6 separate regions of the Homo sapiens genome follow, and regions 1, 2, 4, 5 and 6 are each linked to region 3. The links come from fine-mapping of genetic effects on gene expression. A gene starts in region 3. Each other region holds a variant in brackets. All regions are shown on one strand. Distances are from middle to middle.

Region 1 (4,898 bases), 120 kb before region 3:
GGTGGGTGGATTGCTTGAGTCTGGAGTTTAAGGCTAGCCTGGGCAACATGGCAAAACCCCATCTTTTTTTTAAAAAAAAGAAAGTACAAAAATTAGCCAGGTGTGGTGGCACATACCTGTAGTCCCAGCTACTTGGGAGGATAAAGCAGGAAAGTCGCTTGAGCCTGGGAGATGGAGGTTGCAGTGAGCCGAGATAGAGCTACCGCACTCCAGTCTGGGTGATGAGAGTGAAACCTTGTCTTACAAAAGAAAAAAAAAAAAAGAATCTATTTCTAGACAGTGATGAACTTTATTCCCCCATGTCATGGTCCTTGTAGCTTAAGGAGGTATTTGAGGTTAGGCTTCTCTGACCCTTTGCCCATTCTGCCAGGGGATAAGATATTGGACACCACACTGAAGTTAGATGTTGAAAATTGAGGTCCATAATCCCCGTATGTTCAGTCTCATTCACTTATCAAAGAATATTTCTAACTGGATCCCCAACAGAATCCTTACAATGGAGTGCCATCTCCATTGGCCTCAGGAACTGATGATTCTTTTAGTCCTTTCCTTATAGTGCGTGGGCCCACAGCTTACTTTCACTCATTGCCCACCTGGCTTTTGCTGATACATAATGCCCTTGCATAACCTCCTTGGTCAGCCTAATCACTTAACCCCAGGAGGCCCCTTCAGAAAATCTGCAAATCGCTTCTCTGAGTACGCTTGAGCGTAGCTTATTCAGGCCTAGATAAGCTTTGTTTCTTCAAGACAAAGCTTGTCCCTTTTGCTTCCAGCATAGACTCAGGCCATAGGACCCAAGTCTGAATTTTGGGTGCGTAACTTACTTTGAGCAAGTTACTATTTCTGGTCCTCAAGATTCTCGTGAAAAATAAAGATTAAAAATAGTCCTTACCTCCTAGCATTGTTTGAGAGTTAAATGAGTGAGGGCATTTTATACATTTAGACTATACTTGGCATATAATCAGCTATCAATAAATATTAGATAATATTATTTTGGCAAGAACTGGAAGTGACATTGGCTTTACCAAGTTCATTTGTCCATCTGTTCATTTGAAATGTATTTACTGATCCCCTATGATATGCCAGCTATTGTGATCAGCCACAATTAAGAATAGCCACTCCATACATTCTACAAATACATGTATGGATTCTAATGCATTGCTTTTTCTGAAAAATTTTTTTTTAAAACATGATACACCTTCAAAAAAACTGGAATTTTAAAATGCTCATGTCCCTAGATTGCTGGTTATAAACTATAAGTTCTCTGATTGGGAGAGCATTCGGTGGCCTACCCACTGTTACCTCTGAAGGCAAATTTTTACTGTCAGCCTCAAAAGGACTAAGTTAGGAAACTCATGGCAGAACATTAAAATGTTTATTTCTAATGAAGTTTTCAATATGTAGACATGATTTTTATCCACATTTGTATTCCTCTCTATTGAGATAAATCCAATCTAAAGTGAGGCCTATAGAATGAATAAAAAGTAAATAATATTTTAAAAGAGACCTTATGTCTGAGCAGAATTACTGCTCTAGTAGCTGGCCCATGGAGTGGAGGTGGGAAGGGTCCCACCTCAGGCCTTCAAAGGATGATGTTATGAGGTCTTGAGGTCGGGCCCTGGAGGGGTGTGGCCAGGGCTCAGATCCAGCTTCTACCATTTCTCCTGGCTGACCTTAGGCAAGCGGGTGGCTCAACTCTCTCTATGCTTGTTTTCTTTATCTATACAGGTAGATAATAAAAATACATATCTTGTAAGATTGTTATGAGGCTAAAATGAAGTGATACATGTAAAATATTTGTACATATGCAATAAATATTAGCAGTCAGTGCCAGTCATTGGTCTATATTTTTTCCTCATGAGCCATCCTTTTAGATACCAATACCCTATGTCAGGAAATGACAAATAAAAAACAAACAACAAAGAAGATACCAAGCCCTCTTAAAATAAAAATTCTTCACCAAAAAATTTTTTTAAATGTAATCTGCTATTATTCAGCTGTCTCAAGTTTCATTTAAAGATGAGGCATAGTGTGACATCCATTTTATAGATACAAAAACTAAGGATCCAAGAATGGTTCTCTAAGTTTATAAAACTCAGAGGTGTCAGAAAAACATAGCATACGCTCAGGATATCTGTCTCCAAGTCCCTCCCCCTTTTTATTTTTTAGCTTCACATATCTGTGGACTGGGGTTGGGGGGAAGATCACTATCTTTCAAAAACCACAGATTCTCAGAAAGTACCATTAACTATATCTAAAAATGCACCGTGGCAGCTATTTTTAAGTTATTAAAGTCAACATACTATCTATGCAGCAGCCATTGTTAAAGAAAGCTTCATGTAGAGTTAGAATATAAATGGGGAATGAATTCCAAAAGGAATGATGGGAGCCCGCACCTTGGTGACTACTGAACAATTACATGAGTTTTGTACAGAGATTTTGAAATTGGAGAAAATGTTCTCTCTCTCTCTCTCTCTCTCTCTCTCCAGTCCAGCAGTTTGAGTTTGAAAGCTGGGTGAAGTCTTGGAGAAGCTGGAGAGCAGCCCGGGTTTCCTGCTGCGTGAAGGCGAAAGCCTAGAGCT[G/A]GTTGGAACAAGCCTCTCTACTCTGACTTAGGTTTGCTCTTCTGGAAAGCTGTGAAAGAGAAGCCGTTTGCAAGGTCATGTAGAGTATGGCCCCTCCAGAGGGCCCGGCACCATCCCAGGCATTTCACACATCTCACCCCACGGAGTTGTTATGCAGGGGATTACCAAGAGGCCATTTTGACACAACTGTTTTAACACAGAGCTTAAAAAATAAATTATCAGGTAATGTCAACTGCCCTGTTTTGACCCTCACACCACTCTGGCGTGTCTCCTCAATTATCATTTTTGTTGAAACCTGTTACCTAGTATGTACTATTTTTATTATCTTTTCTAGCGCCCCTCTTTCCACTCCCTGTCCCTGAACCTAGCCTACCCCACCCCACCACCACTTCATTCCTCCTTGTTGGTACCAGCTGGCAAAATCTATATTATTAGAAAATTTCTTTGATAAAATTGACACTAATAAAATATCTGAAAATCCACTTTTCTCACGCCAAAGGATATTTGATGAAAATGAATTATGGTAACAGTTATTCAAAATGTACAAAAGGTTGAAAGATAATATTTTATTTATGATTAATTCATAAGAAAATTATAGGAGATTTATTTCAGATATTTGGAAGTAGTTCTGTGTTTGTATTCCTTTTTCAGGTGCAAAGTCGCAAAATTCTTCTCTCCATTCTGATACATTTAAGCACTTTTATGATGGCTCTCCCCTTTACATGTTCTGCTTGTATTCTTGGTCTTTTCAAGACTGAACAAATAAAATTCATTTACCAATTGTCACACATCCACTGTTCCACACTGAACTAGAATTTGCATTTGTCAATGTGCAAACTTTGACCAAGTTGTCTATTTGGCTATTGCCTCATTAGTCTCTTAAACTTTATATTTAAGGTAAAAAAATAACATATTTGATGAAGTCCTCACCATTTGACTTGAGGACACATGTGGAGATGGCATAGTGGTTAAGAAAGAATACAGGCAAACTGGTTTTGAATCCTGGCCCCATCCACTTTCACTGTAAAGTAATATTAGGAAATTCATTTAACTTCTTTGTGCTGCAACACACTGTGAGGAGTAAGTGAGTTCTAAAGTGCTTAATATCTGTGCCAGGTATTCTTTCAAGTGTTATATGCATGTTAGCAATTATTTTTACTAATTTAAAATTGGGTGCATTTTCTGTTTAGATGAACATTCCACTTAGCAGTAATAAGCAGTTTTCTTTTTTCCTTACTCATTTTTGATGCAACTCTAGGAATAGAAATTGTAGTTGTGGAAAGAGGCAGGTTTGGGGCAAAAAGCAGAGTAGGGGCTGGGGAAAGGTATAGAGGTTGAGCATGGCTCAGGCATGAACAACGTACAGGTTTACTGGGTAGTTTTGCAAAAGTGCTATTAAAAGAGAACAGAAGAGATGAGGTGATGTTTCCGTTATGCATACAACTCAATTTTTTTTTTCACTGAAGATTTTATTGCTTGATTTTTCTCCCCATAGCAAAATGCTCCAGAGATAAAAAAAAAAGTTGCACCAGGAAGACTTCATCAAAATGTCATGTGCTTCATTGTTTAAGCAGGTAAAGTATTGTTGGGTTGTGAAAATGAAAAAGTGATATCAGTAGACTTAGAGGGCCTCATCCCCGTTCAGGCCCACTTCTGAATGGGCCTGATGGGGAAAGGGAAGGAGAAGAGTGGATGCCCCTGACTGAGCATCATGGAAAGCTTCAGAAGCTTAGGAAGGCTAGAGTCTAGCATCTCTTAGACCAGAACAAAGACGTGAGTGGGCCCAGAGGATTGGAGCACCCAGCTAAGCCTTTCTCCTAAGCTGGTGTTTGCCCCAGTCAGCCAGTGATGGGAAGCATTTAGCATCCCCATTGCCCCTCACCTCTTCCCACATCCATGGTAGGCAGAGCCAACACATCAAAACAGTCACTCCTGATGAGCTCAGGGAACATCTCAGGTTTCCACTGCACATGATGCTCTAGGTAGGTTTCCCCGTGAGTGTGGTCATCAGGACTGAATACATAATTTGTAGGGCCCAGTGCAAAAAGAAAATGTTGAAGCCAATGTTCAAAAAGTATTACAAATTTCAAGATGGCAGCAGCAGAGCATTAAATCAAGTGCGAGGCCCTCTGAGCATGGGGCCCTGTACACAGGTTGTACCTGAAGTCAGCCAACTCTCCCCATAGTTGGTATATGAGTACCTCGTCCTGAAAGATCTCTGCTGAGACCACAGCATCCACTACATATGCTACCTCCAGCCCATAGACGGCCATTATTTTCCATTCCTGAAATCAATGGGGCAATTGATTGACCTGC
Region 2 (4,898 bases), 77 kb before region 3:
TTAAAGTCTATTTTGTCAGAAACTAGGATTGCAACCCCTGCTTTTTGCTGTTTCCCATTTGCTTGGTAAATTTTCTTCCATCCTTTTATTTTGAGTCAATGTGTGCCCTTGCATGTGAGATGGGTCTCTTGAATATAACACACCGCTGGATTTTGACTCTTTATCCAGCTTGCCACTTCGTGTCAGTACATCCTTTTTTGATCCACTCATCTGCATCTGGTCGAGAGACCTCTCTGGTCACCAGTCCCAGATACTAACCAATACCCAAGTACACACTGCCCAGGGAACCAATGTAAGAAAGGGAGGGGAAAGGGGCACATCCATTCCTACTGCAGGTTCCCTCATTCTGATGGCTGCAATGCTGTAAAAATCTATAGAGAGGATAGAGTAGGTGCTATCTGTCTCATGGACAGATAAGAAAATTGAGATCTAAGCAGAATGTGACTTGCTAAGGGTACAGAACAGCCAGTTGGTGGCTGTGGAAGGTCATAGAATCTAGGTCATCTAACCCCTAAAGTGGAACATGCTGCTACAGATGGCCTCTGCTGCTATGGTACCAGAGCTAGCAATGAGTATGAACTTCACTTCTTCATTTATTAATCATCTAGTTGATGTATTGGAGAAGAGTGCTTTCCTTCTTGTCCCAAAGTGGGCATGCAGCAACCAAATTAGCAAAGCAGGCGAATGCTGAACAAATGCCCAATGTAGATGAAGGCCTTTTTAAAAGCCTCAGCCTCTCCTAGGCCCCTTTTCCTCCATCAGGATGCTCTCATTATTCCCAAAGAGTCTGTTTTGGTAGAGATGGTGGGGAGAGCTATAGTGCTGGCCCTCAGACGGGAGGACACCACCATAAGCTCATTTGTGTTATATTATACAATTCCTTTTTCAAATAACATCATAAGAAAAGCGTTATACTCTACACATAATTTTATCCGCTTTGTCACAGATATTTGCATTTTAAAAGGGGAAGACCAAGACTCTGGAATGGTTCTCTCCAGTAGCAATGCTGTTGGCATTATCTGGAAATGACAAGGGACTCTGGAGATCAGAGGTCTTTCCAGCTGGTGGTTGACACCCACTCTGACCACAAGGCCAGCCTAGTAGCCAAGAAGAGATTTGGGAGGGAGGAAAGGGCCAGAGGGATCCCAAGGCTTTCCTTATAAATGAAACACAGGGGAGAGACAGGCACAGAGAAAAGGAGGAGGAAATGTGACTATGGAGACAGAGATAGGAATGATGCAGTCACATGCCTGGGAAACCACCAGAAGTTGGAAGAGGCAAGGAATGGAATCTCTCCTAAAGCCTCTGAAGGGAGTTCAGCCCTACCAATATCTTTATTTCAGACTTTTGGCCTCCAAAATTGTGAGAGAATAAATCTGTTTTAAGCCACCTAGTTTGTGACAATTTGTTACAGCAGCCCTAAGACACCAATACAACGTGTGTCCCATTGGAATGGTTATTATTAAAAAGTCAAAAAAACAACAGGTGCTGGTGAGGCTGCAGAGAGAAGGGAATGTTATACACTGTCAGTGGGAATGTAAATTAGTTTAGCCACTGTGGAAAGTAGTTTGGAGATTTCTGAAAGAACTTAAAGCAGGCTAGGCGCGGTGGCTCACACCTATAATCCCAGCACTTTGGGAGGCTGAGGCGGGTGGATCATGAGGTCAGGAGTTGGAGACCAGCCTGGCCAATATGGTGAAACCCTGTCTCTACTAAAAATACAAAAAATTAGCTGGGCATGGTGGCGCGTGCCTGTAGTCCCAGCTGCTCAGGAGGCTGAGGCAGGAGAATCTCTTGAACCTGAGAGGCAGAGGTTACAGTGAGCTGAGATTGTGCCACTGCACTCTAGCCTGAGTGACAGAGCGAGACTCCATCTCAAAAAATAAAAATAAATTAATTAAATTAAAGCAGAGCTATCATTCAGCCTAGCAATCCCATTACTGGGTATATACCCAAAAGAAAACAAATTGTTTAATCAAAAAAGACACATATATTTGTATGTTTATTGTAGCACTATTCATAATAGCAAAGACATGGAATCAACCTAGGTGCCCATCAACAGTGGATTAAATGAAGAAAATGTAGTATATATACACCACAGAATACTACACAAACATAAAGAATGAAATAATGTCCTTTGCAGCAACATAGATGCATCTGGAGGCCATTATCCTAAGTGAATTAATGCAGGAAAAGAAAACCAAATACTGCATGTGCTCATTTATAAGACGGAGCTAAACATTGGGTATTCATGGACATAAAGATGGCAACAATAGACACTAGGGATTACTAGAAGGAGAGGGAGGGAGAAGGGTGAGAGTTAAAAACTATTGAGTATTATGCTCACTACCTGGGTGATAGGATCAATCGTACCCCAAAACTTAGCATCACGTAATACCCCTGAATCTAAAATAGAAGTTGAAATTGTATTTTTAAAATACAATTTGGGTGAATTTTCTCCCCAGAGAGCCCATTAAAGACTCAGTCTCAAGGTTTTAACTGGGGGCTATTTACATAGGCACCTTTGCCTAAC[G/A]TGTACCAAAATTCCAGAACTTCCAGAAGGAAAGCAGATGTTTAGCATAAAGCACATTATTTGCATAAACAGTCTAGACACAGCAAACCACCCTCATAAGTTAGAGAACAGTGAGAAGACTCCAAAAATCCAAGTTCCCAGACACCATCCAAGAGCCAACCTTCCAAGCAGGCCTTTCTAAGAATAGCAACCTCAGATTGGCTGTGTTAACTCTTTTCTGCACATAAGGGTACAGTCTCATGAGTTTTGACAAATGCATATGGTCACACAATCAGCACCACAAGGCATATTTTCCAAAAGTTTCCTTATGTCCCTTTGCAGTTAGACACTTGCCCTGGCTCCATGCAAAGACTGATCTGCTTTCTAACACTAAAGTTTTGCTTTTTCTAAAATTTCATACAAATGAAATAATATAGCCTGTAATCTTTTGCATTTGGCATCTTTCACTTAGTATTGTGCTTTTGAGATTACCATATTGTTGCATGTATCAGCAGTTTATTCCTTGGTAATGCTGAGTAGGGTTGCTTTGTATGAACATGAAACAATTTACTTATCATTTATTTTTATGGCTCTTTTATGGCAATTATCTGTTTTATAGCTCATGCCTCTGTTGCCTCTCTAGGAAATGTTTGTCTACCCAAGATCACAAGGATTTCTTATCTTTTCTTTAAGTTTTATAGTTTTAACTCTTATCATTAGGTCTATGATCCATTTCAAGTTGAGTTTTCCATAATAGATGAAGACTGAAATTCATTTTTTTCCTATGTAGATATCCAATTGTTTCTACACCATTTGTTGAGAGGACTATACCTTCCCCATGGAATTACCTTAGCACCTCTGTCAAAATCAGTTAGCAATATATGAATGGGCCCAGGTTAAGAATAGTTTTTTCAGTAGTCTATATGTCTATCCTTTCACCAACACCACACTCTGTGGATTACTGTAGCTTTAAGTCTAGAAATCGGGTCATATAAGTGTTCCAAGTTCGTTCATCTTTCTCAAATTTGTTTTGGCTCTTCCAGGTTCTTTGTATTTTCATATACACTTTAGAACATGATCATCAATTTCTACAAAAAATACTGCTGAGATTTTGACAGGTAATGAGTTGGATCTATAGATCATTTTGTGGATAATTAATGTCTTAACAATATTCAATCTTCAATCTTCCAATCTATGAACATGGTATATCTGTCAATTTATTAAGGCCCAGACTCTATTCTTAACTTGCTGTAGTTTCTCCCCACTCCAATCTCCAGGATCAGTCAAGAAAGACTTTTTACTTTTATTTTTACTTTTGAGCCCCATTAGGTTCTGAAGGAAAGATTTCTTATACAGTGAGTTACAGGAAAATATATTAATGATTTAATGTAAATTAAAATGTCTACAATTAAAATTCCTTCCAGAGAAAATTGCAACTTTCACTTACCTATATTCCTGAAGGTAGATCCCTTAGAATTTTTTTCATAGAGCAGCCGACTATCAATAATATATTTGTGGGGCCAGGCATAGTGGCTCATGCCTGTAATCCCAGTACTTTGGGAGGCTGAGGCGTGTGGATCACATGAGGTCAGGGGTTTGAGACCAGCCTGGCCAACATGATGAAACCCGGTCTCTACTAAAAATACAAAAATTAGCAAGGTGTGGTGGCACACGCCTATAATCCCAGCTACTTGGGAGGCTGAGGCATGAGAATCGCTTGAACCTGGGAGGTGGAGGTTGCAGTGAGCTGAGATTGCTCCACTGCACTCCAGCCTAGATGACAGAGTGAGACTCCATCTCAAAAACAAAAACAGAATTGTGATTTTTCTAGGGTAAGGACTCAGCAAGAGGCAGAAATGAGAACAAACCCACGTCATTATCATCTTACATTGAAAATCCACTGCTCTCCTATGTTGGCAAGTGTAGAACATTTATCCAAAGGCAAAGCTCAGTCTCCCTATGTTATTCATGCATTGCCCTGTTACAGTCAAGCCAATTGTGGGAGACAGTGTCAGTGTCCTCGGATTGAATTGTTGACTGACCACAAGTTAATTTAGTCATGTTTTGTTCATTAAGCTTCACGATCATCATCTCAGTAATTTTACCAGTGAAAGTGTCCGTGGGTCCAGAGCTAACCAGTGCCAGGCAACCATTGAGAATTAGATCTGTCTTGCACATTCAGGGAAGCCATGTGTCCACAAATGGAGAGCAATTTGTTGTCCATGGGCTTTGATTTCACAAGTGCTAGGAGTTAGTTACTTCTAGAAGAATTCCTGGCACCTCTGTAACACCCATCTGAGAAGAGTGTCGTGAGGTGGAGGCAGCTCAGGTGAGATGAAGAAAAGAAGGGAAGGTTGATTCTGGAGTTGTGGAGGCCAAATTCGGC
Region 3 (4,898 bases):
ATGAGAATGCACATTAGTAAGAAATGTTAAGACAAGCACTACTGCTATATATTTTTTTAATTTGCAAATTCTGGTGCTTTAGCAAAGGTCAGAGACACTAACAACTATTAATAACTCATGAACTCTGATAGTTGGACAGCTAACTCACTGGGATACCAGCAACGCTGCTCTCAGATCCAATACTCAGATTATATTCATTCTATGTAGTTTCCCTAAACAATTTTCCTAAACAACGTTCTCAATTTCAGTACATTAATAGATTTCAAACTCAAAATGAGTACGCTTTTCCTGAAATTACTTCACTTCGTAAAGGTTGCAGGCAAGAATTCTTTGCAGGAATTTCTTAAACTCAGAGAATTGATCTTAATTCCTCTACCAAAGCAGAGATTGAGAGGTGTGGAAGGGTGAAAGCAGATTTCTATTTACAGACATCCGTTCTTCTCCATTATTTCCTCACTTTTTGAAACTCACCACTAAGTGACAGTGCAGTGTTCAAACAGATACCTAACATGGTTTAGGTCCCCTTCTAATTCTACCCTCGTCTCAAGATTACAGATTTGAGCAGCTCATTACTCAACTATTCAAACTCTAAAATGATAGCACTGTCATCAAAGGTACTCTTTGAACCTTCGAGAAAGAGTACTCATTCCCTAATGCAAGATACTCGAGGAGGAAGCTGCCTGTCGAGCAATCCAACTTACACTCTAGGGAAAAGACCCAGGCGTCCACGTCTCTGCTCGCTTCCTCACCTGTAGAATATGATTCTGAAACCCACAGTGGTACTGCTGTCAAAGTCGCCCCTTTCAGCCTGCACAATACACTCCATATCACCTGCTCTAAGGGCCAGGCTTTACCTTTCTGAACGTGGATGATGTCCGGGAAGTTAGCCAGATGCCCCTGATACAGCGCTAATAGGTCCATGACGGGATCCAGGTCCTGCCTGGGCTGCTCCGCGAAGAGCTCGCCAATGGCGTCATAGGCATCTCCGGTGAAGGCGATAGCCTGGTTCAGGCCCACCGAGAAGGCCTGCTGGTCCAGCTCAAAGGCCTGGCTGAGGCCGCGGAAGGACTGGCCCACCTTCTGATACTCCTTTTTGAAGCCGGTCACCTGCTTGCGCGCGAACTCGTTGGCCGTGTGGTTGAGCTGCAGCGCGCTGTCGTCCATCTTCTTGGTGAAGCACTTGAAGCCGTCGATCTTGCTCTCCACCTCCTGCAGGTCAAGGGCAGCGGCGGGGGGCGTGCTAAGGGTCAGGAAGAAGTTGGCGCCCACCATCTCGTCCTTCTCGGCCTTCCTCTTGCCCTGCTTCCAGGCTTTCTCGTCGGTGCTGCTGGGGCACGTCAGGAAGTGCTGGAAGACGTCGCACTGCGCCAGCACTGGGTGGCTGGCCATGTGGTTCATCCACCAGATCAGGCCCTTCCTGCGCTTAGAGATGAAGTCCTCCTCGAAGCGGCCGGTGGCCTGCTTCTCGGGCAGGTGGGGCACGGAGATGACCGGGAACTTCTCCGCCAGGCGCGCGTACAGCCAGTCGAAGTGCTTGTAGCGCCGATGCACCGGCACCTGCGTGTGCGTGGGCACCAGCTTGTAGGAGATGTAGCTCTTCATGCCCTTGAACTTGGTCTGCTTGGTGGGGTCGTCGATGGTGCACTGGAACGGGTAGGGGTTCTCCTGCCACTCGGGGCCATAGGGCCCCAGCACCACGCACAGCTTGTCCCCGTCCTTCACGAAGCCTGACGCCTCCCCCAGCACGAAGGCCTCCCCGCCGGACTTGACGAAGGTGGAGAAGCGATTGAGGTTGCGGCTCACGGTGGCCGAGCTCTTGGGCCCCGACGGGTGGTGCTGCGGGGGGACCGAGCCGCCGCGGGAACCCAGGGACAGGTCGGAGCGCGTGGACAGGCGGTAGCGGCCGGCTGCGCCCACACCCGCCGAAGACGAGCCGTCGAGGTCCGGGTATGCTCCGCTGCCCAGAGCGCCCGGCTCGTCCGCCACCGTGGAGCTGTCGTCCCACTCGTCGTCCCAGTCATCATCGCTGCCTTGGCTGGCCTGGTAGCCGCCGTAGAGCTGCTGAGGCGACGGCTGCAGGGCGCCCCCGCCGTACGGGAAGCCCGCGCCGGGCGGCTGGAAGGTGCTCGGAGGCGGCGCCTGCTGTGGCTGCAGCAGCGCCTGGAAGGCGTCAGGCGGCGGCTTGAAGGAGGCGGGGGGCGCGACAGGCAGGGGCTCGAAGCCCCCGGGGGGCACATTGGCGTAGCGGGCCGGGGCGCCCGGGCCGCCGTCTCCCGCCGGGCCAGGCTCGGGGGCGCGGATCACCTGCACATAGGAGGCCGGGAAGAGGCCGCGGTCGCCGCGGCTGTTGACCCCCTCGAGCCAGCCCTCGATGTCCTGCTCGCTGCACAGGCTCAGCACCTCGTGCTCTCGCAGCGAGATCTCTCCTGGGTTCTCCGACCTGAAGTCGTACAGCGCCCGGGCGCGCAGCGCCATGGTCCCGGCGCCCCGACTGGCGGTCCCGACTCCCGGCGTCCCGAGCCGAGGCCCACCTGAGGGGCCCGCGGTACTGCTCGAGCCCTGGCGCGCGGACTGGAGCCCCGAAGGCGGCAAACCCACGCTGCCCGGACCAGCCGGTCGCGCCCTCCGCGCGGCTCCGCTCGCAGCGCCTCCACTTCGCAGCGCCGACTGCCGCGCTGGGCCGCCGCAGCCGCCGCCGGTCGGGGGCGGGGCCCGCGGCCTCCCACGTCTCCAGCTGCGCTAATCCACGGCCGAGAGCCCCTTGCCAGGCGAGAGCAAGCGATGGCCGAGCCGCCGAGCCCACCGCCCGCGTCGGCTTTGCGGCGGCCACTGCCCTCTAGTGGCCGGTGCCGCGAAGCCGGGCGCCGTAGTGAGCGCGGCTGAAGGAGGTTTCTACTCCGAAGTGAATTATCTGAGATTTCTTTAGGCTTTTAAGTTAAACATTCTCTAGAAAGTAAGTTAGCATTTGCATGCCTGATAAACGTTCCCACTCTGAGCGCTCAGTGAATGCTCCTAGAATGGCAACCCAGTCATGTAATAAAGCATTTTGCAATGCGAATTAGTGATTGCACTAAGAAAACAGGATGCCTCTGCGGAGGAGCTGTTCACCTACAGAGCAGGCTCCCTTCCCTCTTCTGCTCAAGGAGAGGAGATTGGCAAGAACAAAGTAAGGGCCAGGGAAGGTGCTGTGATTGACAAAATTAGAAGCAAAGGATCATGTAGAGAGGGAGGAGCTGGAGAGTTTCCAGTACAATAAATGCTCACACATTTATTACATGCATGTGTCGCCTATCCTCCCATAGATATATGTAGTGCGGTGAATGAGAGCTCAAACTTCGGAGCCAGGCTTCTGAATTTCAATCTGTGTTCTGACACTACCTAGCTGTATGACCTGGAACAAGGCACTTATATCGTACCTACCTCCGGGGGTTGTTGTGGGGATTCCATCATAAAGTAATCCCTATTTTACAGATGAGGAAAGTGAAACAATATCTGGCAGGGTAAGCAGATTTGAAGGGTTTGTTGCTGCTTTTGCTGCTGTTACTGTTATTTGGGGGAAGCAAAATCCCTGGCCTCTTTCACAAAGGGAATAGGGGTACTAAACTAACAATTGCAGGGTACATGCACCAGGAAGCGTCCCAATGTTCACATTGCCACTCCTAGTAAGAGGTCAGTGACCATCCATCCATCTGTTGTCTCTATGTCTCACTATATTTATATTATTTTTAAGATAAATAGAACAAAAATCACTTCCTGAAATAATCAGCTCCAATCTATCGTTGCCTTGTTTCCTATCTTCCTTTCCTTCAGTGTATAATTTGCCCAAAGCTTTTTCTTCTCTTAATCCCCTCTTATTAAGTCTAGCCTAATTATTCCTTTGAAGACACTTCTAATTGAGGTTCTGCATTCATGTGTCATTAATTTCAGCCTGTCCTCTGACCCTTTTCAAGGAAACCTGGGAAACGGGCCAGAAGAGTGTACAATTATTCTAAGGGCTGTGGTATTGTAAGCATCTTGCACAAAAACACAAACCCACTATACCAGAATCACTCCCACAGTGTTTATCCTAATGCAAAACCTTAATTCAATTCAGTAAGCATATTCTAAATTACATTTTTAGCTGAAAATTCTGGGTTTTGACTATTCTCACAGTAAGCAACAGGGATCATTGAATTTCAATGCCAACATTTCATGTGGTCAGAAACATGAAGTCCACATTAACTAAACCTCTAGAATATGACTCATTTTACTTCTGAAAAGCTAACCTAGAATATGTAAGATAAATAAATTTAGTTTCGCCCCTTCTGTTCGTTTAGTAGTTACTTTTTAGATTAGAGTTAAGTACAGTAACTTTGGGCTTATTTCAGGTGTGAAAATTCCAGGAGTTTAAGGTGATGATTTTTTACAGACTGGTTGAGCTACTCTGTAGAAATGGTGGTTGAGGAATTATTGGGTGTCCAAGGTTGTTTGTAGCACTGGGGCATGGGCGTCTGCAGGTGCTTACTTTGTAGGAGTCCAGTGGGAGGCCTCTGTGCTTGCCGCGCATCAGGCTTCCAGAAGGATGAGGACAGGCTGTCATGATGTTTGGCCCTATGGCCACTAGTGGCAGGAAAACCCCTACCTCTAGAGGGTCTTAGATATGTAGAAAATTGTGCTCCAGTATTAACAACCTATAACTGTTCACTCAGGGAAATAGATACAGTAACACATTTTGTAAAGATTTCTCTAGAAAATGGAGCATATTATTCACAGTTTAGTTTACACAATCATTATAACCACCCATATGCTTCTGTAAAGTTTTTAGGGGACACTAAATGACCCCAAACAATTGCATTTTCTTACTTCCTCCCTTGGCCTGAGAGGCCTTAGATAGCCTGGCCCTTGGCTATCTTTCCAGC
Region 4 (4,898 bases), 130 kb before region 3:
GCAGTGACAACCCGTCACCTTCCATACTGTGGAAGCTTTGTTCTTTCGCTCTGCAATAAATTTTGCTGGTGCTCACTCTTTGGGTCCACATTCCCCTTATGAGCTGTAACACTCACAGGGAAGGTCTGCAGCTTCACTCCTGAAGCCAGCGAGACCATGAACCCACCCGGAGGAATGAACAACTCCAGACTCTCCGACTTAAGAGCTGTAACACTCACCGGGAAGGTCTGCAGCTTCACTCCTGAGCTTGCGAGACCAGGAATCCACCAGAAGGAAGAAACTCTGAACACATCCGAATATCAGAAGGAACAAACTCTGGACACGACGCCTTTAAGAACTGTAACATGTAATCCCAGCACTTTGGGAGGCCAAGGCGGGTGGATCACGAGGTCAGGATATCGAGACCATCCTGGCTAACACGGTAAAACCCTGTCTCTACTAAAAATACAAAAAATTAGCTGGGCACGGTGGCGGGGGCCTGTAATCTCAGCTACTTGGGAGGCTGAGGCAGGAGAATGGCATGAACCCAGGAGGCGGAGCTTGCAGTGAGCCGAGATAGGGCCACTGCAGTCCGGCCTGGTCTAAAGAGCGAGACTCCGTCTTTTTTTTTTTTTTTTTAAAAAAACTGTAATACTCTTCGCGAGGGTCCGTGGTTTCATTTTTGAAGTCAGTGAGACCAAGAACCCACCAATTCCGCACACACCAGCATTCCTTCGGGTTCCTAAATAATAAACTGGGAACCATTCACCCTTGACATCTCCATCTCCTTAATCTTCCAGAATCCGGTCAGTCTCCAAGTTCTGCAGATCCTACTCCTTTCACTTCTCTCAAATCTGTTCTCAACTCTTCATCCCTGTTGCCCGTTGAAGTTTCAAGCCTTCATTTTTCTGGTCTATTGCAATGATCTGCTACTTAGCCTTCCCCTGTTTTCAACCCCTGCTGTTCAATTTGCTGTCATGAAGACAAGTAAATATCACTCATTTTCTGGGAATCTCCTCAATATTGCCCCCACAGCCTTCAGGATGATGACTTTGATTCTTGGATTGGAATACAGGGTTCTCTACGATCATGCCTCTGCCTACCTCCCCTTCCTCTCATGCCCCATTCACTACCAACTTCAACTGCTTATAGTTCCCAAACCATGCCAGGCTATGTAATATCTCTTTGCCTTTGCTCCACAGTCCTCTTTCCAGAATGCTCTGTTCTTTCCTCTCCTCTAGGTGAACACCTCTATACTTTTCAAAACTGAGATCAAGCATCACTCGTTAAAGAAAACTCTCCTGGGTCAGGTGTGGTGGTTCATGCCTATAATTCCAGCACTTTGGGAGGCCAAGGCGGAAAGATTGCTTGATGAGATGAGACAGAGATTTGAATTTATAGCCCAGTAAGGGCAATACGATCTTTTTCCTGCGTTTTAACTGTTGCACTCGGCATAGTACTCGGCATGTATTTGGCACTTAGTAAATGATTATTGAATAAATACAGATGTAAATGATGGTCTAATTCAGAACACTATATTGTTAAATATCCTGAATATATTTATTTAAGGCGTAGTTTGCAAACAAGCCATGTATTAGAACATCAGAATTTCACATGTGACAAAGCACGATCTGGTTCAGTGAGCCAAGTTGGTAATCTCCAGCCGATGACGAATTGCTCTTGAGACACTTGTTACAGGCAGCCTCAGGAAGAGGCACAGGCCATTTATACCGCTTCGAGCCGCCAGTCCCAGCTCTCTTGGAGAAAGGCAGCACAGCTGGGAGGGCTCACAACAGGAGGCCTGTTGAAAACAAGTCGTGGTTTCACCCTGTGTTTTGATTTCTGTTCAGGGAAGGGCACTTCCTCTTGCATTTGTAGGAGCCAAGTAACACATTCTGGGTGGAGGGAACTATGGTAGAAAGCCTAGTGTTGGACACATGAAAAGGTGGCAGCATCTTAGAACTGGCTAAACACATATCTTGGCATAAGAACTTGGGTGGCAGGCAACCAAGATTTGGGGAGTGCTTTTCCTGCATCATTTTCTGCTGGGATTGCAATATGAGGGAGGCCTTGTTGATGGGTGTAGTTTGTTATGGTTGGCAATACCTTC[T/C]GGTTAGTAGTGGTTGAGTGCTTGCTAACTTGTGAATTCTTCAGAAGAGAGTAGAATATAAAAAGCCTTCAAGCCTCTCCTGTCTCCCCCGCAATGCGGCTAACGCAGGGCAACCGGCAGCAGTGAGCTGTGGATCCAGGCACTGGCTAGAGAAGTTGACAGACCACGAACACGGGGCAAGCTGAGTCTTTCTGTTTCACTTCCGGCATGTTTTTCACCCACAGGGATATTTTGGTCTGTTTCAAAGAAGAGGAAATCAGCCCCTAGCAGAGTGTTTCAGAAAAGCAGCAGAAGAAAAGAAAAAAGATTAAAGCCATATCTCTTGGGGAGAGAGATAAAAATCTGGATTTTGTTTGAAACAATGTTTCCATTTCCAACACCTCAGGTCCATAAAAAGTAGGAGAAAAAAAGTCTTCTTGGGGTTTCAGCATGCACAGTGCATTTATTCTCTCTCTCATTTCTTAATTTGTCAGTTTCTTTCGCCAAGTACCAAATCCAGTAAATGTTCTTTAAATGGAAAGAAAAAAGCAATAATGAATGCCAGAAAAGTTTCCCAACCAGCCGGCCAAACCACAAGTATCCAAAAATGTGATTTCATTTTTAATAATACAGAAAACTGAGGAATATCAAGTAGAAATATAAAGAGAGGAAAAACATTGACTTATTCTAAACACCAATAAAAAGGATTTCCAACTTCAGAATGTTTGTAGAAGACATGAAGAGAAATAGCTAGTCAATGAAGGAATTCAGAACCCGGTGTTCACAAAATTAAGAAGATACTAGTGATCAATGAACTCTAAACACTCATATGGGTTTGCCTTCTCTGAATCCTTTGAAATTCACTCTCTATTCGGTGTCCAAATTTCCTGTATATGTAAAATGGAGCCAAGGAGCCCACATTGTGAACAGAGAAAGTAAAGATCGTGTAGGATGAAGACATTCGTGTTGTAACCTGTGTCTTTTATGCCAACTCTTAGAATTTAAGGAGCAGCTGGGGAGGCCAGCAGGCTGACTTAAGCCCACAAAGGATGGCCTCTGATCCCTGAAACTGGGGGAAGAAGCAAGATAATTCTTAACTACTCAGGTGACATCTCTTCCAAGAAGTTTTCTCTAACTTACTCCCTAGCCCAGGAGGGAAGGCTTAGACCCCTCATCTGTTTTCCCGGAACACCTGGGCATAGCTCTTATTGCATCCAAACGGTTCTTATAATGCAATGCAACACAATACACAGTATCTATATGTCTCCCTTGTTAGACCATGGAGTCTAGAGCAGGGATATCTTTACTTCTCTGGTGCCAGGTATAGTGGCTGGAACATCAATTACCTAATTGACATGAATGCTTTCTTTCTTTGTATCCAAATAACTCAGGGCATTTTAGTTGTTTTATCCTATGGTTATATCATTCTTACCATGTTTTAGTACCGGCAAATAGAATTCATTATTTCCCAGGATATATCAGTTAATAATTTCATAAACAGAGAAACTAACTACATCTGGAGCAGTGCTTCCCAAACTTTACTGTGCATGCAAATCACCTGTGGATCTTGCTACAAAGCCGATCGTCACTCATTTGGCCTGGGAAGGGGCCTGAGAAGCTGCCTTTCTAACAAGCTCCCAAGTGCTGCCAATGCTCTTGGTCCATAAAGTAAGAGTGGCTTGAGCCAGATAGAGTTTAATTTTGTTTCCTGAAAGTTAAGTCCAGAGATTAGCAGTCCAGAGCTTGTTTGGCAGTTCTGCCACATCATCATCAGCCCAGGCTCTTCTATCTTTCTGCTTTACTATCCTAGGTTCTGTTTACCCCAAGGTCTCCCCTTGTCCCAAGATAGCAGCTGCTACTCTAGCCATCACACCTATATTGTAGTCAGTAGAGAGGAGGACACACCAGGGCAAATGGCTGACAGCTGGGTCAGCCCCTTCTAAAGGAGTTGTCAGGAGGAGCCCATCTGACAACTTTCACTCCTATCTCACTGGCCAAAATGTAGTCACCTATCTAAAGGAAGGCTTGAAATGTGATTTTCCTGTTGGGAATATGTTGCTGATTACAACGAATTGAGTTTCTCTTAGGAAGAGGGGGAATGAATGCTGGGTAGATGCCAGCAATCTCTACTATGAGTCAGATGAGATTGTTGTGGATCACCTGTTACTCACCCGTGGTTAGTAACCTCTGGATTGTGCCCCATTCCTGAAGAGACACCAGTTACTCTGTTAAGGTCCATGCGAAACATCAGCTGTCTTTGTGACAAGTTCTGTCTCATAGGCTCCTTGACTGTACTTACTGACTAAAGCTATCATCACTCTTGGCTGTGAAACTTGAAGTAAGATGAGGGGACCAGAACTTCCTACCCTCGCTGCTGCCTCTTTGGAATAACATTAATTGTCAGAGCTTAGTTTGGCCCAGGCCTTATTTGCATCCTTGGGCTCTCGGATGCCAGGGAAACATGGCTACTGTGACAACAGATGAGATCCTGGCTCAAGGATGCTGGCAGGGTCTCTAGCTTATTGTCCCTAAGGTTATGGCTTATAAATAAGGGAATGAGTCCAAAGAGATGTGCTGTTCTTCTTGCTTGGTGCCAATCAGTTCATTCCTTGAGTAACAGTGGAGTCACCCAAAGTGAAGAAACAATTCCAGCCCACTGATTTCGGCCTGAGCACTCACGTTTTTTCCCTGGCTCTTTGCCCAGGATTTCCAGGGAGAAGGCAGGGGCCAAGAAGCAATATACATTCCTGAAAGGAAGGCTTCTTGAGTGATTAAAATGATGGTATCAGTCGGTGGCTCACAGGCAATGACAGAGAACACAGGCAGGGTG
Region 5 (4,898 bases), 22 kb after region 3:
CAGATCTCTTTTACTGTCTCAGTTATAATTTTGCAACAGCAGTTTCAGTATGACAAGATGACCAGGAAAAGCACCATAAACAAAGGTAAGTTCTGCTATGCAGATTTAAGTCAATGCCTTCTCCATTGATTAAGAGTCTAGTGATCTAGTGTCCTCCTCTTCCTGGTGTAGACAGGGACACAGTCTCACAAATGGAGATTTCTTTGATAGATGTAAATTTCTCTCACACAGGATAACTTTTCAGAGCCTCTACTGTGTCTACAATTTCTCAAAATAACAGCTCAAAATAATCCTTATGTTAAAGAGACATATTTTGGCCTGGCATATTCTGGTCTCCTAAAGTCATATTTTGGCGTGACTTGTCCTGGACCCAATTAATAGAGTGTTCTCATTTTTTATAGCAACATAATATCCCATTATGTGGACATACTGAGGGAGCACAGGGAATTTCACCCCAAAATATGGCTCACTGCAGCCTGAACTCCTGGGCCCAAGCAGTTCTCCTGTTACAGCAGGCAGATACCTAGACATGAGCAGGAGGGGGAGCCTGAAGAAAGGGAGGTCTGGAAAATCTCACACCTCAGAGACCACTGGAAATCTGCATGCTAGATATGAGCATAAAGGAGGGAAAATACCTGTGCACGAAGAAACACCTCAGAACAACTCTTAAGATGCCCAGTAATCACTCACGCTGCAGCTAATCGGTCAGAATGGAGCTAGCCACATGCTGATAAGGAGGGGATGGCTGGGCACAGTGGATCACGCCTGTAATCCCAGAACTTTGGGAGGCCGAGGTGGGTGGATCACCTGAGTTCAGGAGTTCAAGACCAGCCTGGCCAACATGGTGAAACCCTGTCTCTACTAAAAATGCAAAAATTAGCTGGGCATGGTGGCAAGTGCCTGTAATTCCAGCTACTCAGGAGGTTGAGGCAGGTCAATGGCTTGAGCCTGGGAGGCAGAGGTTGCAGTGAGCCGAGATCATGCCACTGCACTCCAGCCTGCACAATTGAGACTCTGTCTCAAAAAAAAAAAAAAGGGCAAAGGGGAAATTTCTAAGAGTCTGAGAGATATGCAGGGGTAATATGTACACATATAACTGCTATATGACCTTCCTAGAGGGCAACGCTAGAGGGTAATAAGCAAAGCTGCCATTAGGATTGTACCCAACACCAGTCCTTGCATGTGCCTTAACTACCAGTAAAGGAGAATCCCATAAACCTAGAGCAGGAACTAGGCAGGAAAAAAGCAGGGACTTAATGCAGAAGGGGGAAGCTAGATAAAGATAGAGGTGGAGACTTGAGACAGAGGTGGGAACTTAAAGAAACAGTCCCAACATAACAAAAATCTCAATGCAGAACCCTAGGGGCTGCTGGCTCATTCTCTTTCCAGCAGCCCACTCTGACTTTTCTTTCAGAGCATACTATCTCTTTAAACAGACTGCTACTACTACTGCTCCCAGCAGGGTCAGCCCACTCCTCTCTTGGAGCATATTCTTATTTCCTTAATATGTCTTTGTTTACTTTACTAATTGGTCTCTTGGCCAAATTTCTTCTCCCAAGAAGACTAAGAACAGAGGACTCCACACATCCTGGTAACACTCCCACCTCAGCCTCCCAGCTGGCTTGGACTACAGGTGTGCACCACCATGCCTGGCTAATTAAAAAAAAAAAAAAAAATTGTGGCCAGGCATGGTGGCTCACACCTGTAATCCCAGCACTCTGGGAGGCCGAGGCAGGTGGATCACATGAGGTCAGGAGTTCGAGACCACCCTGGCTAACATGGTAAAACACCGTCTCTACTAAAAATACAAAAATTAGCTGGGCGTGGTGGCGCATGCCTGTAATCCTAGCTGCTTGGGAGGTTGAGGCAGGAGAATCGCTTGAACCCAGGAGGTGACGGTTGCAGTAAGCTGAGATCTCACCACTGCACTCCAGTCTGGGAAACAGAGCGAGACATTGTCTCAAAAAAAAAAAAATTTTGTGTAGAGATGGGGGTCATGCCATGTTGCCAGGCTGGTCTCCAGTTGATCTTCCTGCCTCAGCATTCCAGAGTGCTGGGATTACAGGCATGAGCCACCATGTCCCATGCTGATCAAAATTTTTAAATGAGTTGGAATTAGTCAAAAACAGGATTGGTATTCCAGGTAGGAAGAGCATCAAAGACACAAAAAATGTTAAATGCCATGGTGGATATTAGGAAATACAAGAAATAAGTAATATTACAGTGTAAAACAACACAAGGTGAGATGTAGAAGGAATTAAGGCAAAAACATGTGTAAGGAAATTGGACTGTATGAGGATGAAAGGTGTTTGAAATGAGAGAAATGACAAGCTCAGGCAGTAGTAAGACATCATAGAATGGTGGCCAGCATGATGCTAGAAGCTACTTCAGGGAACTACTGGATTGACACATGATAAAGATAGACAATGGCAGTTGGGAGGTCAAGAAAAGGGCAGAAGAACAATGCTTAGAAGGTAAAACTGGCAAGCCTTGATGCAAAGGTATGAAGAGGAGGAGGTCGGGATGGATGAATGGTGACTGTAACAAGTAGAGAATTCAGGTGGGGAACAAGTTTTGGGGAAAGGAGGAGAAGCTTGACTTTCAAGAAGATTATTTTGAGTTACATACCCTTCACTACTACACCCCTGTAAGGGAAAAAATCAAAGGCACTATGCTATTCCAACTTTACTACTTGAGTTGGCTGATGGGAGTATTGGTTTCTTATTTGGCAAATGGTAGAGCTTGAATGTGAATCCAGCTTTTTAAATGCCAGAACCAGCCATCATTCCACTATGTATGCTGCTGTCAAAATAAGCACTGCTCATAAAATAA[C/T]ATAAGTGAAAACAAGCACAGCTGGCTAAAATGAGGTGGCAAATGTCAAGAGAGAATGATTAATAGAGGAAGTATGCTAGAGATAGGTGGACTGGGATCCCATATGTAGCAGAATCATGGGGTTTGGATCCAGCTAACCCAAATTTAGAGAGTACAAATGGAAAATGCTAATTTTTAAAGATTATGCACACTTTAAGTCACCCCCTACTCCATCTGTTGAGAAAGGTAATCTACTGTGAGCCCTGAACAGCCCTATACATTCTTGCTGGGTATGCTAGAGAGACTTTCTTGCTGGCTTTGAAGATAGGAACTGCCATGTTGTGAGAGGGTCATGTGGCAAGGAACTGTGGGTGGCTTCTAGGAGCTGATGGCAGCCCCAAACAACAAGCCAGCAAGGGCAGGGCACAGTGGCTCATGCCTGTTAGCCCAGCACTTTGGGAGGCTGAGGTGGGAGGATCACTCAAGAGCAGGAGCCAGCCTGGGCAACACAGTGAGAGCTGTCTTTACAAAAAGTACAAAAATTAGCAGCAAGAAAGTCTCTCTAGTTACTTTAGACAGTCTTCTATAATGAAATTGATCAAGGGAATGATATCCTGTTTGGAAAAATCTCTCAAGCCAAACTCCTCTACTCATATCAACACAATAAACACAGAAGACTTCTATGACCCCGAAATATGTGGGGATTTCTCTCCACCAGCAAGTAAACAATAGATTCTGCAGTGGACACCAGCTGAGTGTCCTCCAATTCAGTTCTGACATTGTCTACCTGGAGATTGTGTCAGATCCCACAGGTTGAGGGCTCAGTCCCACCAATCGCCAGTCCAAGTGTCTGGAACTTCTGGCTGACCAGATTTAAGTTGGGGTTCCCACAACCCCCTCTTTGGTTTCAATTAATTTTCTTTTTCTTTTTTTTTTTTTTTAAGATGGAGCCTCGCACTGTCACCCAGGCTGGAGTGCAGTGGCCCGACCTCAGCTCACTTCAACCTCCGCCTCCCAGGTTCAAGCGATTCTCCTGCCTCAGCCTCCCAAGTAGCAGGGATTGCAGGGGCATACTACCATGCCCAGCTACTTTTTGTATTTTTATTAGAGAGGGGATTGCACAATGTTGGCCAGGCTGGTCCCTAATGCCTAACTTCAGGTTATCCATCCACCTTGGCCTCCCAAAGTGCTGGGATTACAGTCGTGAGCCACTGAGTCCAGCAGGATTCAATTAATTTTCTAGAGTGGCTCACGGAACTCGGGGAAACACTTACTTGCATTTACTCATTTATTATAAAGGATATTACAAAGGATATAGATGAAGTGTGTAGGGCAAGGTATAGGGGAAGGGGTACAAAGCTTGAAGGCCGTCTCCAGGTATACCACCCTCCAGGAACCTCCACGTGGTCACCTCTTCAGAAGCTCTCTGAACCCTGTCCTCTTGTGTGTGGTGGAGTTGTTGGCGGGGAACGGTTGTGGGGTTGTTTTTTGAGACAGGGTCTCACTCTGTCACCAAGGCTGGAGTGCAGTGGTACAACTATGGCTCACTGCAACCTCGACCTCCTGGGCTTAAGCAATCCTCCCACCTCAGCCTCCCAAGTAGTTAGGACTTACAGGAGCCCGCCACCAACATCTGGCTATTTTTTGGTAATTTTTGTAGGACCAGGTTCCACCTGTTGCCTAGGCTGGTCTTGAACTCCTGGGCTTAAGCGATTCACCTGCCTTGGCCTCCTAAAATGCTGGGATTACAGGCATGAGCCACCGTGCCCGGCCCTCTTGTGTTTTAAAAGAGAATTCATTACATAGGCATGATTGACAACAGTGCAGAAATGTGATTGGACGAAAAGGGTATGACTGCATACAAATAGGCTGAGCGGGGAAACCCAGTAAGACCCACTGTTGAGATTCTTCCTGGCCTCTGTGCAGCATTGCTTCCTTCAGAGTATGGGGCACGCTTTCTGGAATGAGGGTCTTTTGACTTGCCTTGGACAGGTGAAAGGAGGAAAGAAGTTCAGAGAGACAGAGAGAGATTGTTTCCTGAGGCCTGTTCCTGAGGCCTAAAATGCCCCAGCCAATGTCTTGTTATA
Region 6 (4,898 bases), 68 kb before region 3:
CCAGCTGCTCGGGAGGCTGAGGCAGGAGAATGGTGTGAACCTGGGAGGCAGAGCTTGCAGTGAGCTGAGATCACGCCACTGCACTCCAGCCTGGGTGAAAGTGAGAGACTCCGTCTCAAAAAAAAAAAAAAAAAAAAAAAAAAAAAAAAAAAAAAAGAATAGAAATAACAGTATTTTTTCTTTCAATGTATTTGAATTATTTTTTTTTCAAATGACTTCTAAGTTGTTAGGACATAGCAAATTGCTTAGATACAACTGCCTAGAAACAGAATTTTTAGGCATTCTTTTGGCCTAGAGTCAATATGAAAAAATTATGGCGACACTATACTATGAAACGAGAGTGTTTGGGAACTTCTGCCACTGAGTACTGGTGTCAGAAATCCAGATTTCCTTGATTGGGTTGCTTGGATTCCCTAGAAGATTGGCTTCTTCCGCAACTTGTCCTCCTTCTATGAAAGGAGAAAGGGCAAAAGGGGTGTACACCTTCCTCTCATGGACACAACCTGGCAGATGGCCTCATCACATTCGTTCACAATCCATTGTCCAGGATGTCATCTTATGCCCACATCTAACTGCAAGGGAAGCACAGACAGTCACACTGTATCCTTGATGGCCACGTGCCTTAAAAAATATTGGGGATTTTGGTGCTGTGCACAAAAGTGAAAGAATGGAAATAGGTGACCACTTGTAGTCTCTACCACAGACCATCTGAATTGAAAGCAATGGTGCTGTACCCCTCCACTCTTAATGAATGGTGGTGTTTTCAACATCATATTAACTGCCAAGTGAACTAAAGAAGAGCAGCAGGCTCTGAGAGCATTGCAGGGTTCAGTAGAAGGGATTGGAACACTGGCAGCACCAACAATGAGTGCATGCCGTGTGCAGGTGCAAGTAATTGGGCACCACGGAGAGAAAGGACATTAAGGAGTTTTTTGCTTTTGGAAGTTATTGACAAGTTTTTAGTCTATAGAGATGAAAACATTAATTCACCTTTGGAGCACAGTCCTTTATTCTGGTAAGAGCAATTCTCTTTTCCAGCAGAAGACGCAATAGATTATGTCTTTGCCTTGGCCAGGGACTATTATTTATATACTGTTGATGTATATAGTACTTAATAGGATATAAATAACCACTTGTTTACAGAAAACCACTTGTTTACATACCAACCTGTTTATAACCTTTTGTTTACATACCAACTTTTACGTAAGGACAATTCCCTTCTTTTTTTGAGATACAAAATTATTAAAAGATATTGGATGGACTAGGGTACTCAAAATAAGACTTGAATGGATTCTCAGATTTAAATAATTTGCCATGAGATTAGAGGTTCACTGTTGAGCTGGCTGTTCCCCAAAAGCTGAATATCCCAGGGGAATATCTGTTCAGACCTGTGAGGCTTTAACTCTGCCATCAGGAGTTTGGAGTAATAGACTTCCTCCCTAAAAGAGGGGCTGCTCAGGAAAAAAAAAAAAAAAGGAAATAAATTCCCATTAACCTTACAGAGTGCTCACCTCTTTCTCCAGCAAGGGTTCCTTCCTCTGCTGTATTTGTGAGACATATCTATATTTATATACAAATGCCTGTTCATGAGTCAGGCCACTCTCCTCTGTATCATGGGCTCCTTCCATCCTTGGCTTGCCCTGACTTTGCTGCTGGCTTCATAGCAGGGTGACATGGAGCAAGCTATGATCCTACTATGTATGGTCTGAATGTCTCCTCTAAAACTCATGTTGAAATTCAATTGCCATTGTGATAGTATTAAGAGGTAGGACCTTTAAGAAGTGATTAGGCCATAAGGGCTCCGCGCTCATGAATGGATTAATGCTGTTATTAATGGGTTAGTTATCACAGAAGTGGGGTTTTCATTAAACAATGAGTTCAGCTTGATTTAATCCGTGTCTTGCACGCTCATATTCCTTCTGCCCCTCTGTCATGGGGTGACCCTTGCCAGATGCCAGTGCCATGTTCTTGGACTTTCCAGCCTCTAGAACCATGAGTCAAATCAACATTTTTTTTTCTTTTTAAATTACCTACTCTGCAGTATTCTCTTATAGCAGCAGAAAATGGACTAATATAGCCCCCATGGCCAGCTCTGCTCTGTCCCTCATTTCCCCACGGCATCATCACGCCAGGCTGCAGATGTAAATAGTTGCTAGTGAAGGACTTGGTGGCTAGAGGATATAATACACAGGAGAAAAACTTAAAACCTGGCACTAAATTGGGCCATTTCCAGAGTCCAAGGTAAAGGAAAACAAAATTTACATAATTCACACCCAATCCCTAATTCTGCTTCCTGTCTTGAGGGCCATTCTTCTCCATTTTTCCCTTAGGAAGGTTTACCTTTAGGAAAAACCCACCTTCTTTCCACAGGGGTTAGACTTCCCTTGGCCTGTGGAAATATACAGCTGTGTGTTACTGACAGTGTTGCTGGGGAAGGAGTATTTTTTTTTTTTTTTTTGAGACGGAGTCTCGCTCCGTCGCCCAGGCTGGAGTGCAGTGGCACGATCTCAGCTCACTGCAAGCTCCGCCTCCCAGGTTCATGCCATTCTCCTGCCTCAGCCTTCCTAGTAGCTGGGACTACAGGCACCCGCCACCATGTACAGCTATTTTTTTTTGTATTTTTAGTAGAGACGGGGTTTCACCATGTTAGCCAGGATGGTCTCGATCTCCTGACCTCGTGATCCGCCCGCCTCGGCCTCCCAAAGTGCTGGGATTACAGGCGTGAGCCACCGCGCCCGGCCGGGGAAGGAGTATTTAAGCCACCTCTGTTGGAAGGCGCTTCATCAGCCAGGGCTCTTTTTTTA[T/AT]CCTCCTGCTACAGTCACCACCTTACTGTACAATTTGCTCTCACTCTGACTCCATCCTACCAATCCACACAAGCTGGGCCCAGCAAATCAGTCACACTGGTCATCTAACTCAGGGGAAGTCCCATGTCCCTTCATTCAAGATCGCAGAAGTCAGTGTGACAGAAGACCAGCAGGCTGGAACCAGGCCTCTGTGACTCTCAACCCACCCCACCCACCCAATTCAAAAGGCTGCTTTATAAGTATAACCATGGATTCTTCCTGCTGCATGATTCTGTGTTGCCAATTCCTCCTCGTAAGCAGAAAGCAGGGAGTTTGTCGGGATATGTACATTGTGATATTACTCTGTTTTTTTTTTTTTTTTCTTTTTGGGACAGAGTCTCACTCTGTCACCCAGGCTGGAGTGCAGGAGCATGGTAACAACTCACTGCAGCCTTGAACTCCCAAGCTCAAGCAATCTTCCCACCTCAGCCTCCTGAGTAGTGGGGACTACAGGTGCATGCCACTAGGCCTGGCTGACTTAAAAATTTATTGTAGAGATGGGATCTTGCTATGTTGCCCTGGCTGGTCTCAAACTCCTGGACTCAAATGATCCTCCTGCCTCAGCCTCCCAAAGTGCTGGGATTACAGGCGTGAGCCATCATGCCTGGCCTGTGATCCTACCTTTTGACCTTCTGTTTACATTTTAACCACAGAGTGAGTGGCAAACACGTCGGCCACATAGTTAAAATACGTGTGTTGGCCAACCAGCATGGCCTGTCTGTCCAGGAGATTCAGTCTAGGATAACACTGAGGCATTTCCACAGGACAGCTCGGAAGAGGTCTTGGTACTCCAGGTTTGGTCTTCTTCCAAGACCAGCCATCTGTGTGAGGCAAAGCTATGCCTCCTCATTCTTCTGGTGGTCAAGGATTGCAATACACACACAAACCCCAATCTTAAGGAAAATAAACATTGTGCCTAAATGCCATGTAATCTATAATTATTCCCCTACCTGCATTTAAGCAAGATAGAGACAAATGGTTGTTGTTGTTGTTCATATTTTTTTGTATTCAGAACCATCTCCCATAGGCCTTCAGTGCATAGACACCTGGCTTGTCATTATTAATCTTTTCGAACAACAAGGCCACACTCCACCTATGCAAATACCTGATTGAAACGTTTTTACCTTAGGCCAGATCACACTTTTAGCTGAAGTGTCCTCCCCATTAGTCTCCATAAGCACATTGGGGGTAATATATGAATTTATTATTGCTTTTAACCCAAAGTAAACCCAAGCAGCCATGGGAAGTTCTATTAAAAAGCTACACACTGGTGCCTGGACGCAGTGGCTCACACCTGTAACCCTAGCACTTTTGGAGGCTGAGGCACGCGGACTGCCTGAGCTCAGGAGTTTGAGACCAGCCTGCAACATGGTGAAACCCATCTCTACTAAAATATAAAAAATTAACCAGATGTGCTGGCACATGCCTGTAGTCCCAGCTACTTGAGAGGCTGAGGCAGAATAATTGCTTGAACCCAGGAAGCGGAGGTTACAATGAGCTGAGATTGTGCCACTGCACTCCAGCCTGGGCAACACAGCAAGACTCCGTCTCAAAAAAAAAAAAAAAAAAAAAAGAGCTACACACTGGCAACCCAGAAACAGCCTCCCTCCTGGCCTGAGGAGCCACTGCAAGGCAGTCAGTGTCAAGGGCTCTGCTGTGGCTCGCCAAGCTGCAGCAGGTGTAGCAGCACCATCAGGCTCTGGCAGCAATGTCATTACAGCAGAGGGCATCTGGGGAGCCTGGAACACCCGGCAGGGTGAGAAGATCTAGGACTGACCCTTGAGACCAAATAAGCACTTCTGGGTATCCAGGCTGGACCCTGGAAGGGGGTCCACAAAGAAGGGACAGGATTATGAATTTCCTAATCTGGGAAAATTACATTACTTACATACCCAGCTGGGGAAGTGGGGCATATGGTTCTACATATCTTATTTTATTTCTCCAAAACATGCTAAGTGGTAGGTACTATTTTGATCTTCATTTTATACATAAGGAAGCTAAGCATTGGTAAAATAACTTGTCCAATGCCACACGACTAATAGGTGGGAAAAGTAA

Which allele goes with the higher level. Alleles are on the strand shown, and positions count from the first base shown. SD is a standard deviation of normalised expression in the study named. Not every link is listed here.
In carriers of allele A in region 1, the expression in esophagus mucosa of the gene that starts at base 2,669 in region 3 tends to be higher than with G alone (moderate effect, 0.56 SD a copy in GTEx).

Evidence for each region. PIP is the estimated chance that this variant, and not a neighbour inherited with it, causes the effect.
Region 1: its variant is fine-mapped to the expression of SNX18 in esophagus mucosa (GTEx, PIP above 0.99).
Region 2: its variant is fine-mapped to the expression of SNX18 in whole blood (TOPMed, PIP above 0.99).
Region 4: its variant is fine-mapped to the expression of SNX18 in whole blood (TOPMed, PIP above 0.99).
Region 5: its variant is fine-mapped to the expression of SNX18 in whole blood (INTERVAL, PIP above 0.99).
Region 6: its variant is fine-mapped to the expression of SNX18 in whole blood (TOPMed, PIP 0.99).

Annotation. Positions count from the first base shown.
Region 1 is chr5:54,635,575-54,640,472 of GRCh38, reverse strand. It overlaps a transcript of SNX18 not described here. Among named protein-coding and RNA genes, the nearest start is that of LINC02998, 110 kb to the left of the region's middle. RefSeq lists an enhancer at 387-961. The variant G/A (reference allele first, on the strand shown) is at 2,583.
Region 2 is chr5:54,592,233-54,597,130 of GRCh38, reverse strand. It overlaps a transcript of SNX18 not described here. Among named protein-coding and RNA genes, the nearest start is that of SNX18, 77 kb to the right of the region's middle. The variant G/A (reference allele first, on the strand shown) is at 2,534.
Region 3 is chr5:54,515,530-54,520,427 of GRCh38, reverse strand. It overlaps SNX18 (sorting nexin 18), which reads right to left and starts at 2,669. Exons shown (of 2, transcript NM_001102575.2): 1 at 855-2,669. The coding sequence starts at 2,475. RefSeq lists an enhancer at 817-1,761 and silencers at 2,234-2,793, 2,674-2,915.
Region 4 is chr5:54,643,767-54,648,664 of GRCh38, reverse strand. It overlaps a transcript of SNX18 not described here. Among named protein-coding and RNA genes, the nearest start is that of LINC02998, 98 kb to the left of the region's middle. The variant T/C (reference allele first, on the strand shown) is at 2,090.
Region 5 is chr5:54,493,185-54,498,082 of GRCh38, reverse strand. No RefSeq gene overlaps it. Among named protein-coding and RNA genes, the nearest start is that of SNX18, 22 kb to the left of the region's middle. The variant C/T (reference allele first, on the strand shown) is at 2,833.
Region 6 is chr5:54,583,565-54,588,462 of GRCh38, reverse strand. It overlaps a transcript of SNX18 not described here. Among named protein-coding and RNA genes, the nearest start is that of SNX18, 68 kb to the right of the region's middle. The variant T/AT (reference allele first, on the strand shown) is at 2,805.